2 separate regions of the Homo sapiens genome follow, and region 2 is linked to region 1. The links come from fine-mapping of genetic effects on gene expression. A gene starts in region 1. The other region holds a variant in brackets. All regions are shown on one strand. Distances are from middle to middle.

Region 1 (5,373 bases):
TGCTGGAGAGTGAGTCTTCCTGCCCCAGGCAAGCCTATAGACTAAGATAGGAGAACAACTGGTTGGGGCAAAAGCCTTACCTGTATAGAAGGTTACTCACTCTGGTAAATAAATATCTTTCATAGTAAAAGCATCATCAGATTCCAGAGTCATGAATTAACAAATTGTGCCAGTCTGCTGTGTTTCTTCCTTTATCCATTGGTAGTCAGGAAGGTGCAAAGGGTGTGGTGGTTATAACCAACAGTCTAGACTTATTAATTTATGCTTATTTTTTGCTACAAAAGTGGCTCTTTGGTTAACTCCCATGACATTTAACTGCCAGCCACCAGCAGGCTACCCACTTCAGTCCTCATTCTACCTGCCTTACCTAGACAATTTTATTTATTCTCATCATTTCAATGGTTAACCACTGTTATTTCCATGATTGTAAGATACACCATTAATTTAATAATACCTGGGGGTGGGTGAGGTGAGAAGAATCTCTATCATATTAAATACACAACATCTATTGTAAGCTTATCCTTACACTCCACAGCTAAAGACCTACCAATTTTTCAAGACTCGTTGCATAGTCATCCCCTCTGTGAAGCTTTCTCTGACAGCCTCCTCCTGGACTGGCCGCTCCCTTGTGGTGTCACAACTCTACCTTGCATATGCAATCACAATGCACAAAATGTCGACTCCTCAAGGGCAAGAACTGTCTGCTTCATCCCTGTACCCCCAGGATCTAGCCCAGTGTCTGCCATTAATTCACTCTATAAATATACATTGGGACCTACCATGTGCTAGGCACAGTCCCTGACACACATTGTTTATTAAACAAAAGAATTTTTAAAACATCTACTCTGCCATAAGGTGGGATACAAGGTGAAAATGTGACAGCCTCTTAGGCCCATGCATTATTAGACAGAGATGGGGGTAGTGTATACATTTTGCTAAACTGAATGTGACCAAGTGCCACAATGTGTGGTTCAAACATTAAGCGTTCTGGGTGGTTAAGAAAAGGAAAGATGGAGGATGAGCTGAAATCTGAGCTTCTGAAGGTGCCAGGCCTCACATTTCTCTGAAGCTCCACTACCTTCCAAGGCCTAACATTAGGCTTGAATTCAAGGTTGATTGAATGAAATTGGGAAACTTCCCTGCGAGATTCTAGGGAAGAATTGGGATGGGGAAGAGAAAGGAATTACAGTGTGTATGAACAGAACCAGGAAAGGCTTGGCGGCAGAAATAAATTTTAAAAAAATTATTGTGTAAAATGTACATAGCACAAAATTTACCATTTTAACCTTAAAAATTTTTTTTTAGAGACGGTGTCTCACAATGTTGCCCGAGTGGTCTCAAACTTCTAGCCTCAAATAAAAAAAAAAAAGAAAGAAAAAAGAAAAAGAAGAAAAAGTGCCAGCCCAGTGGCTCAGACCTGTAATCCCAGTCTTTGGGGAGGCCGAGGCGGGAGAATCGCTTGAGCCCAGGAGCTCGAGACCCGCCTGGCCAACATAGGGAGACTCCAGTGTCTACAAAAAATAAAAACAATTAGCGAGAGTGTGGTGGCACACATCTGTGGTTCCAGCTACTTGAGAGGTGGAGGTGGGAGGATTGCTTGAGCCTGGGAGGTCAAGGCAGCAGTGATCCCTGATCGCACCACTGCACTCCGGCCTGGGTGACAGATCCTCATTTTGAGACCCTGTCTCAAAAATGAAAGAAAGAAAGAAGACAAAACAAATAAAAACTCCTGGCCTCAAGCAACACCATCCCTGCCCCCCGCCTCCCCCTGCCCCCCCAACCTCAGCCTTCTGAGTAGCTAGCATTACAAGTACCAGTTACCAGGCCTGGCAATTTTAAACATTTCTAAGTGTACCATTCAGTGGCATTAAGTACAATAACGTTGCACCACCAGGAATGAATTTTTAAGTCTCTTTCCAAAGATACCTGGCTAATCACACATTTGATAGTGGGGAAATAAGAAACATTTGTTGGTTGAAAGACGGATGCATGAGAGTAAAAGCAGTGTTCTTCCCCAGTGTGGGCAGTTTCCGCATAAGCATCTGCGATCCGTTTTGCATGTGAATGAAAGCCCAGTGACGGGCAGTGGGCACCAGTGCTGCTCCTTGCGTGTTTGAATCATGCTTGCTAAGTTTCAAGCAAGGAATGCTCCATTTCTCCCAACCAAGTCGGGCCTTTTGTATTCAAATCAAAAGCACAAAACTCTATTGTAGGGGGAAAAATGAGTCTTTATTGGCAATCAGTGGTGTCCACTTAGAGCAATAAATATTAAGTCTTAAGAGTACATTCTATATGAAGTACTATAGCTATTAATACACTTGGGTTTTGTTTGTTTTTTAAATGGGTGTCTTTGTGGGGTGCTGTTCTAATCAGTGCCACAGGCGCCGAGGAGAGGGAGGGAGCTGGGTAAGGAAGGAGACAGGCCCACCCTAGCCACCGGGGAGTGGGCAGAGTCAGGAGAGCGGGGTTCTGATTTTGCCCCTTCCCTGTGAATCCTTGGGCACCTCACCGAAACACTTAAGGCCTCTGTATGGTAGAGGTTGGAATCCGTGGCCTTTAAAAGTCCTTTCAGCTCCTTCGCTCCTATCTGCATAATTTTTGGCATAGGCCAAGCGGCTGGTTGGTGGGGTGTTTAGCTCAGGACGAGAGGCCGAACGAGCGGGGAGTTGGCTGAGGATAGACTAGACACGCGTGGGTGACTCCAGCGTGATGGAACGCGGGGTGTCCCGGGATAGGGCTAAAGCGATGGGATTTCCAGACGAGTCTTTCCCAGGCCAACTTTTAAAGGTCGGAGGAAAGTTTCTCGTGGGGTGGGGGCCCAGAGGGGATGGCAGGGTGGGCTCCGACGCCTCCTCGCCTTTAAGCGGGTGGCCCCGGCTCTTCCTCCGTTACCTGGAGCGGGGAGGGGCTTGGGAAAGTTTGTGTTTGTTGCTGGCAAAGCGCCGGATGGGAGGCGCGGGCGGGCGCTGCGGTTCTTCCCTTCTGCTTTCGGGAAGCGGTCGGGGCTGCACACTCGGATCGGCGGGGCCGGCTCCCGGGCCCGGCCGGCTGGAGGAGGGAGGGAAGGAGGCGGGAGGGAGCGAGCGGAGCCAGGGGCGCACGTACGCCCCAGCGCTGGGATTTATCGGCTCGCGAGGAGAGCGGAGCAGGCGCGCGGCCCAGGCGGAGGAGCGCCGACTCTGGAGCAGCCGGAGCTGGAAGAGGAGGAGGAGGAGAGGCGGCGGGGAAGGAGGAGGAGGGGGAGAGTCGCTCCCGCCGGGCGAGCATGGGGCGCCTGGCCTCGAGGCCGCTGCTGCTGGCGCTCCTGTCGTTGGGTGAGTGTGCGCGGGGCTCAGCGGGGCACACGGGGACTGGCGAGGCCCTGGAGGGCTCGGCGGGGCGCGGCTGCAGCGCGCGGCCTGGGGCGCCGAGGGTGCCCGGGCTGCTCCCGGGAAACCCGGCCGGGGTGCGCGGGTTGTTCGGCCCGGCGGGGAGCGGCCGCGGGGCCGCCCGGAGCCTGGCGCGAATCCGCTCGGGCCCCGCGCGCGGGGTGCAAGTGGCCGCTCCGCCAGGCCGAGCCTCGCCCCCAACATGTGCCGGGGGGAGTGGCCCGGGGCCGTCTTTCCCCCAGGTCTCCCTACCTGTTGGCCGCCGGGAGCCCGGCTCACCTTGAACTCCCGGCCCGGAAGGTGCTGCGGTCCCGGCCCGGGTCCTCGGCTCGAGAGCGGAAATGTGAGCCTTTGATATGCCCCGCCATAGCCGCCGCCGGCCGGGTCGCTCTTCACCCAACCCGCGCGGAGTTGCCTTTCCAGGGAAGCGAGAGAATCCTCCAACTTCCTTCCACGAAGGTCACAGGGTGGCCCGGAGCGTTACAATGGAAATCGGCGGGCGAGTCCTGCCGTCATTTTCGTCGTGGCTAGATCTTCTGCCTCAGTCTTTTCTTTTAGCTTTTCTTGAAGCTGCCTAGCTGCGTATTTATACACAAAGACCTAAAAGCCTGGCTTCTCCAACTTTTTCTACCTGTTACTTTCCCTCCCTTACTATCCCCTCGTCTTCCACCCTCCGGAAACCCTGGGTGCCCCGTGAGGTTTTGGCCCAGCGCCCTCCCCCCACCCAAGGAATCTTTTGTGGGTTTTTTCCCTCTCCATTTTCCATTCACTCCATACACAGACACCATCTTCACGTAGATCCACATGGTGATCCTAGCCAGCCACGGAAATATGTTTATTAAGTGCCCACCATGGTACCCCAGGGCCGACTCTTAAATGTTTTGATATTCTTGGATCCTTGTTGTCAGTGTCAACCAGGACAAGATGATTCCTGTGACCTGGCCTGGGGTTCTCTTCCAAGCCCCTAGAGAAGGCGGCTCTGAGTCTTTCACAGAGCGCATGATGTGCGGTGTCCGTGCCATTCAGGTCCCAGCTGCACACAGGGCAAATGATTACTCTGCACTTATGGTCAGAGGGTTCCAGAGGAGGCCTTCTATAGCTACTCCCCTGCTGGGGACACCGGGGCCCACACTGCTGTAACCCCCATGACTCCTGCTGCTGATGAACCAGCCTTGCTGGCTGCTGTGTTTTCTTCCTTCACCTTGAAGGGATTTTCTGAACTGACTCCCTCAGAGAGCTCGTCCAGCCACATTGCTTCAGCTTCAGCCCATGTGCAGAAAGCTTCCAGATCTTCCACTTAGTTTTATGGCATCTTTTCTATAGTCCCTGATCCTAGTGCTTTATTTTTATTTTTGAAACAAAGCCTCAGTCTTTCACCCAGTCTGGAGTGCAATGGCACAACCACAGCTCACTGAAGCCTCAAACTCCTGGGCTCAAGTCATTCTCCCACCTCAGTCTCCTGAAGTGCTGGAATTACAGGCATGCTCCACCACACCCGGTGGTAGTGCTTTTAATCTTTACTTTTCACTCTGGGACCCTTGTAAGTTGTATGTTAGTGGCGCACTGCTGTTATAGTCCACACACATTAATTGACTTTATGTGTCTGGGTCAAGCAGGGCCATGGCCTAGGTTTGCACAGATGGTGCACTGTACAACTTCGGGAGCTGCTGTTCACTTTGTAGTCTGTGTGAATAACTCCCCCTAGAGCTGTGCAGTTCTCTGAACAACCTGGGTACCAGTTATGAGGGTGGGATGAGGTAGAACTTTGAAAACAATGCCCTTGAGTAATAATGAAGGGAGAAGAGGGGAGGGGGCAAAGAGAGACTGACAAAAACAAAATAGAAGTGGGGAAAGCACAGCTTGGGGAAATCTTGATTGTACTCCAGCATATCCTGTCCTGGCTGGATGCCTCCTATGAATTACACAGGGAATTTCTGTGGTGTCACCAGCCAGTACCTTTTCACCTAACAGTTCTCTGAACCATTGATGACCCTCCTGATAACTC
Region 2 (5,373 bases), 69 kb after region 1:
AAAGGAACGCAGCTCTTCTCCAGCAACGGAACAAAGCTGGACCGAGAATGATTTTGACAAGTTGAGAGAAGAAGGCTTCAGATGATCAAACTTCTCTGAGCTAAAGGAGGAAGTTCGAATCCATCGCAAAGAAGCTAAAAACGTTGAAAAAAGATTAGACGAATGGCTAAATAGAATAACCAGTGTAGAGAAGTCCTTAAATGACCTTATGGAGCTGAAAACCATGGCATGAGAACTACGTGACAAATGCATAAGCTTTAGTAGCTGATTCGGTCAACTGGAAGAAAGGGTATCAGTGATTGAAGATCAAACGAATGAAATGAAGCGAGAAGAGAAGTTTAGAGAAAAAAGAGTAAAAAGAAATGAACAAAGCCTCCAAGAAATATGGGACTATGTGAAAAGACCAAATCTGTGTCTGATTGGTGTACCTGAAAGTGATGGGGAGAATGGAACCAAGTTGGAAAACACTCTGCAGGATATTGTCCAGTAGAACTTCCCCAACCTAGCAAGGCAGGCCAACATTCAACTTCAGGAAATACAGAGAACGCCACAAAGATACTCCTCGAGAAGAGGAACTCCAAGACACAAAACTGTCAGATTCACCAAAGTTGAAATGAAGGAAAAAATGTTAAGGGCTGCCAGAGAGAAAGGTTGGGTTACCCACAAAGGGAAGCCCATCAGATTAACAGCGGATCTCTTGGCAGAAACTCTACAAGCCAGAAGAGAGTCGGGGCCAATATTTAACATTCTTAAAGAAAAGCATTTTCAACCCAGAATTTCATATCCAGCCAAACTAAGCTTCAGAAGTGAAGAAGAAATAAAATCCTTTACAGACAAGCAAATGCTGAGAGATTTTGTCACCACCAGGCCTGCCCTACAAGAGCTCCTGAAGGAAGCACTAAACATGGAAAGGATCAGCCGGTACCAGCCACTGCAAAAACATGCCAAATTGTAAAGACCATTGATGCTAGGAAGAAACTATATCAAGTAACGAGCAAAATAACTAGCTAACATCATAATGACAGGATCAAATTCACACATAACAATATTAACCTTAAATGTAAATGGGCTAAATGCTCCAATTAAAAGACACAGACTGGCAAATTGGATAAAGACTCAAGACCCATCAGTGTGCTATATTCAGGAGACCCATCTCGCGTGCAGAGACACACATAGGCTCAAAATAAAGGGATGGAGGAAATTCTACCAAGCAAATGGAAACAAAAAAAGGCAGGGGTTGCAATCCTAGTCTCTGATAAAACAGACTTTAAACCAACAAAGATCAAAAGAGACAAAGAAGGCCATTACATAATGGTAAAGGGATCAATTCAACAAGAAGAACTAACTATCCTAAATATATATGCACCCAATACAGGAGCACCTAGATTCATAAAACAAGTCCTTAGAGACCTACAAACAGACTAAGACTCCACACAATAATAATGGGAGACTTTAACACCCCACTGTCAGCATTAGACAAATCCATGAGACAGAAAGTTAACAAGGATGTCCAGGAATTGAACTCAGCTCTGCACCAAGTGGACCTAATAGACATCTACAGAACTCTCCACCCCAAATCAACAGAATATACATTCTTCTCAGCAACACATCGCACTTATTCCAAAATTTACTTCCAAAATAGTTGGAAGTAAAGCACTCCTCAGCAAATGTAAAAGAACAGAAATTATAACAATCTCTCAGACCACACTGCAATCAGACTAGAACTCAGGTTAAGAAACTCACTCAAAATCGCTCAACTACATGGAAACTGAACAACCTGCTCCTGAATGACTACTGGGTACATAATGAAATGAAGACAGAAATAAAGATGTTCTTTGAAACCAATGAGAACAAAGACACAACATACCAGAATCTCTGGGACACATTCAAAGCAGTGTGTAGAGGGAAATTTATAGCACTAAATGCCCACAAGAGAAAGCAGGAAAGATCTAAAATTGACACCCTAACATCACAATTAAAAGAACTAGGGAAGCAAGAGCAAATAAATTCAAAAGCTAGCAGAAGGCAAGAAATAACTAAGATCAGAGCGGAGCTGAAGGAGATAGAGACACAAAAAACCCTTCAAAAAAATCAATGAATCCAGGAGCTGGTTTTTTGAAAAGATCAACAAAATAGATAGACCACTAGCAAGACTAATAAAGAAGAAAAGAGAGAAGAATCAAATAGATGCAATAAAAAATGATAAAGGGGATATCACCACTGATCCCACAGAAATACAAACTACCATCAGAGAATACTATAAATACCTCTACGCAAATAAACTAGAAAATCTAGAAGAAATGGATGAATTCCTGGACACATACACCCTCCCAAGACTAAACCAGGAAGAAGCGGAATCCCTGAATAGACCAATAACAGGCTCTGAAGTTGAGGCAATAATTAATAGCCTACCAACCAAAAAAAGTCCAGGAGCAGACGGATTCACAGCCGAATTCTACCAAGGTACAAGGAGGAGCTGGTACCATTCCTTCTGAAA[G/C]TATTCCAATCAATAGAAAAAGAGGGAATCCTCCCTAACTCATTTTATGAGGCCAGCATCATCCTGATACCAAAGCCTGGCAGAGACACAACAAAAAAAGAGAATTTTAGACCAATATCCCTGATGAACATCGATGCAAAAATCCTCAATAAAATACTGGCAAACCGAATCCAGCAGCACATCAAAAGGCTTATACACCATGATCAAATGGGCTTCATCCCTGGGATGCAAGGCTGGTTCAACATATGCAAATCAATAAATGTAATCCAGCATATAAACAGAACCAAAGACAAAAACCACATGATTATCTCAATAGATGCAGAAAAGGCCTTTGACAAAATTCAACAGTCCTTCATGCTAAAAACTCTCAATAAATTAGGTATTGATGGGACGTATCTCAAAATAATAAGAACTATTTATGACAAACCCACAGCTAATATCATACTGAATGGGCAAAAACTGGAAGCATTCCCTTTGAAAACTGGCACAAGACAGGGATACCCTCTCTCACCACTCCTATTCAACATATTGTTGGAAGTTCTGGCCAGGGCAATCAGGCAGGAGAAAGAAATAAAGGGTATTCAATTAGGAAAAGAGGAAGTCAAATTGTCCCTGTTTGCAGATGACATGATTGTATATTTAGAAAACCCCATCGTCTCAGCCCAAAATCTTAAGCTGATAAGCAACTTCAGCAAAGTCTCAGGATACAAAATCAATGTGCAAAAATCACAAGCATTCTTACACACCAATAACAGACAAACAGAGAGCCAAATCATGAGTGAACTCCCATTCACAGTTGCTTCAAAGAGAATAAAATACCTAGGAATCCAACTTACAAGGGATGTGAAGGACCTCTTCAAGGAGAACTGCAAACCACTGCTCAACAAAATAAAACAGGACAGAAACAAATGGAAGAACATTCCATCCTCATGGATAGGAAGAATCAATATCATGAAAATGGCCATACTGCCCAAGGTAATTTATAGATTCAATGCCATCCCCATCAAGCTACCAATGGCTTTCTTCACAGAATTGGAAAAAACTACTTTAAAGTTCATATGGCACCAAAAAAGAGCCCGCATTGCCAAGTCAATCCTAAGCCAAAAGAACAAAGCTGGAGGTATCACGCTGCCTGACTTCAAACTATACTACAAGGCTGCAGTAACCAAAACAGCATGGTGCTGGTACCAAAACAGAGATATAGACCAATGGAAAAGAACAGAGCCCTCAAAAATAATACCACACATCTACAACTATCTGATCTTTGACAAACCTGAGAAAAACAAGACATGGGGAAAGGATTCCCTATTTAATAAATGGTGCTGGGAAAACTGGCTAGCCATATGTAGAAAGCTGAAACTGGATCCCTTCCTTACACCTTATACAAAAATTAATTCAAGATGGATTAAAGACTTAAATGTTAGACCTAAAACCATAAAAACCCTAGAAGAAAACCTAGGCAGTACCATTCAGGACATAGGCATGGGCTAGGACTTCATGTTTAAAACACCAAAAGCAATGGCAACAAAAGCCAAAATAGACAAATGGGATCTAATTAAACTAAAGAGCTTCTGCACAGCAAAAGAAACTACCATCAGAGTGAACAGGCAACCTACAGAATGGGAGAAAATTTTTGCAGTCTACTCATCTGACAAAGGGCTAATATCCAGACTCTACGAAGAACTCAAATTTACAAGAAAAAAACAACCCCATCAAAAAGTGGGCAAAGGATATGAGCAGACACTTCTCAAAAGAAGACATTTATGCAGCCAACAGACACATGAAAAAACGCTCATCATCACTGGCCATCAGAGAAATGCAAATCAAAACCACAATGCAACACCATCTCACACCAGTTAGAATGGCAATCATTAAAAAGTCAGGGAACAACAGGTGCTGGAGAGGATGTGGAGAAATAGGAACACTTTTACACTGTTGGTGAGACTGTAAACTAGTTCAACCATTGTGGAAGACAGTGTGGCGATTCCTCAAGGATCTAGAAATAGAAATACCATTTGACCCAGCCATCCCATTACTGGGTCAAAGGATTATAAATAAATCTGCTATAAAGACACATGCACATGTGTGTTTATTGCAGCACTATTCACAATAGCAGACTTGGAACCAACCCAAATGTCCATCAGTGATAGACTAGATTAAGAAAATGTGGCACATATACACCATGGAATACTATGCAGCCATAAAAAAGGATGAGTTCATGTCCTTTGTAGGGACATGGATGAAGCTGGAAACCATCATTCTCAGCAAACTGTCACAAGGACAAAAAACCAAACACCTCATGTTCTCACTCATAGGTGGGAATTGAACAATGAGAACACTTGGACACAGGAAGGGGAACATCACACACCAGGGCCTGTCGTGGGGTCGGGTTAGAGGGGAGGGATAGCATTAGGAGATATACCTAATGTAAATGACGAGTTAATGGGTGCAGCACACCAACATGGCACATGTATACATATGTAACAAACCTGCACGTTGTGCACATGTACCCTAGAACTTAAAGTATAATAATAATAAAAATATGCCCAAAGTCTGTCCTCATGGAGCTTGGCAACCTAGATGAGGACATGGGCAAGAAATAAAGTGCTCTATAATATCACAGCAATTAATGCTATGAAGACATGCAGAGCAAAGGAGTAGCTGGTGACCAGAGGGTGCTATTGTAGTTAGAATTCTTAGGAAATCATTATAAATTTTTTCTTTGCATTTACATATTAGCATTGCCAACAGGATGCCTAAGAGTTGTGGGACCCATCAGTCTTACTCCTTTTCTGCTTAGCCTCATTTAGTGACCAGTTGATGTCCCTCTCTCACTCTTTGACCCTTAAGACTTGAAAGAACATTAAATGCACTCA

The links. PIP is the estimated chance that this variant, and not a neighbour inherited with it, causes the effect. A credible set is the group of variants that fine-mapping cannot tell apart.
Region 2: its variant is the best candidate, but not a certain one, in a credible set for the expression of PTGFRN in monocytes (TOPMed, PIP 0.55).

The regions. Positions count from the first base shown.
Region 1 is chr1:116,906,939-116,912,311 of GRCh38, forward strand. It overlaps PTGFRN (prostaglandin F2 receptor inhibitor), which reads left to right and starts at 2,978. Exons shown (of 9, transcript NM_020440.4): 1 at 2,978-3,314. The coding sequence starts at 3,266.
Region 2 is chr1:116,975,828-116,981,200 of GRCh38, forward strand. All of the region lies in intron 7 of PTGFRN (prostaglandin F2 receptor inhibitor), which reads left to right. Among named protein-coding and RNA genes, the nearest start is that of CD101, 23 kb to the right of the region's middle. The variant G/C (reference allele first, on the strand shown) is at 2,498.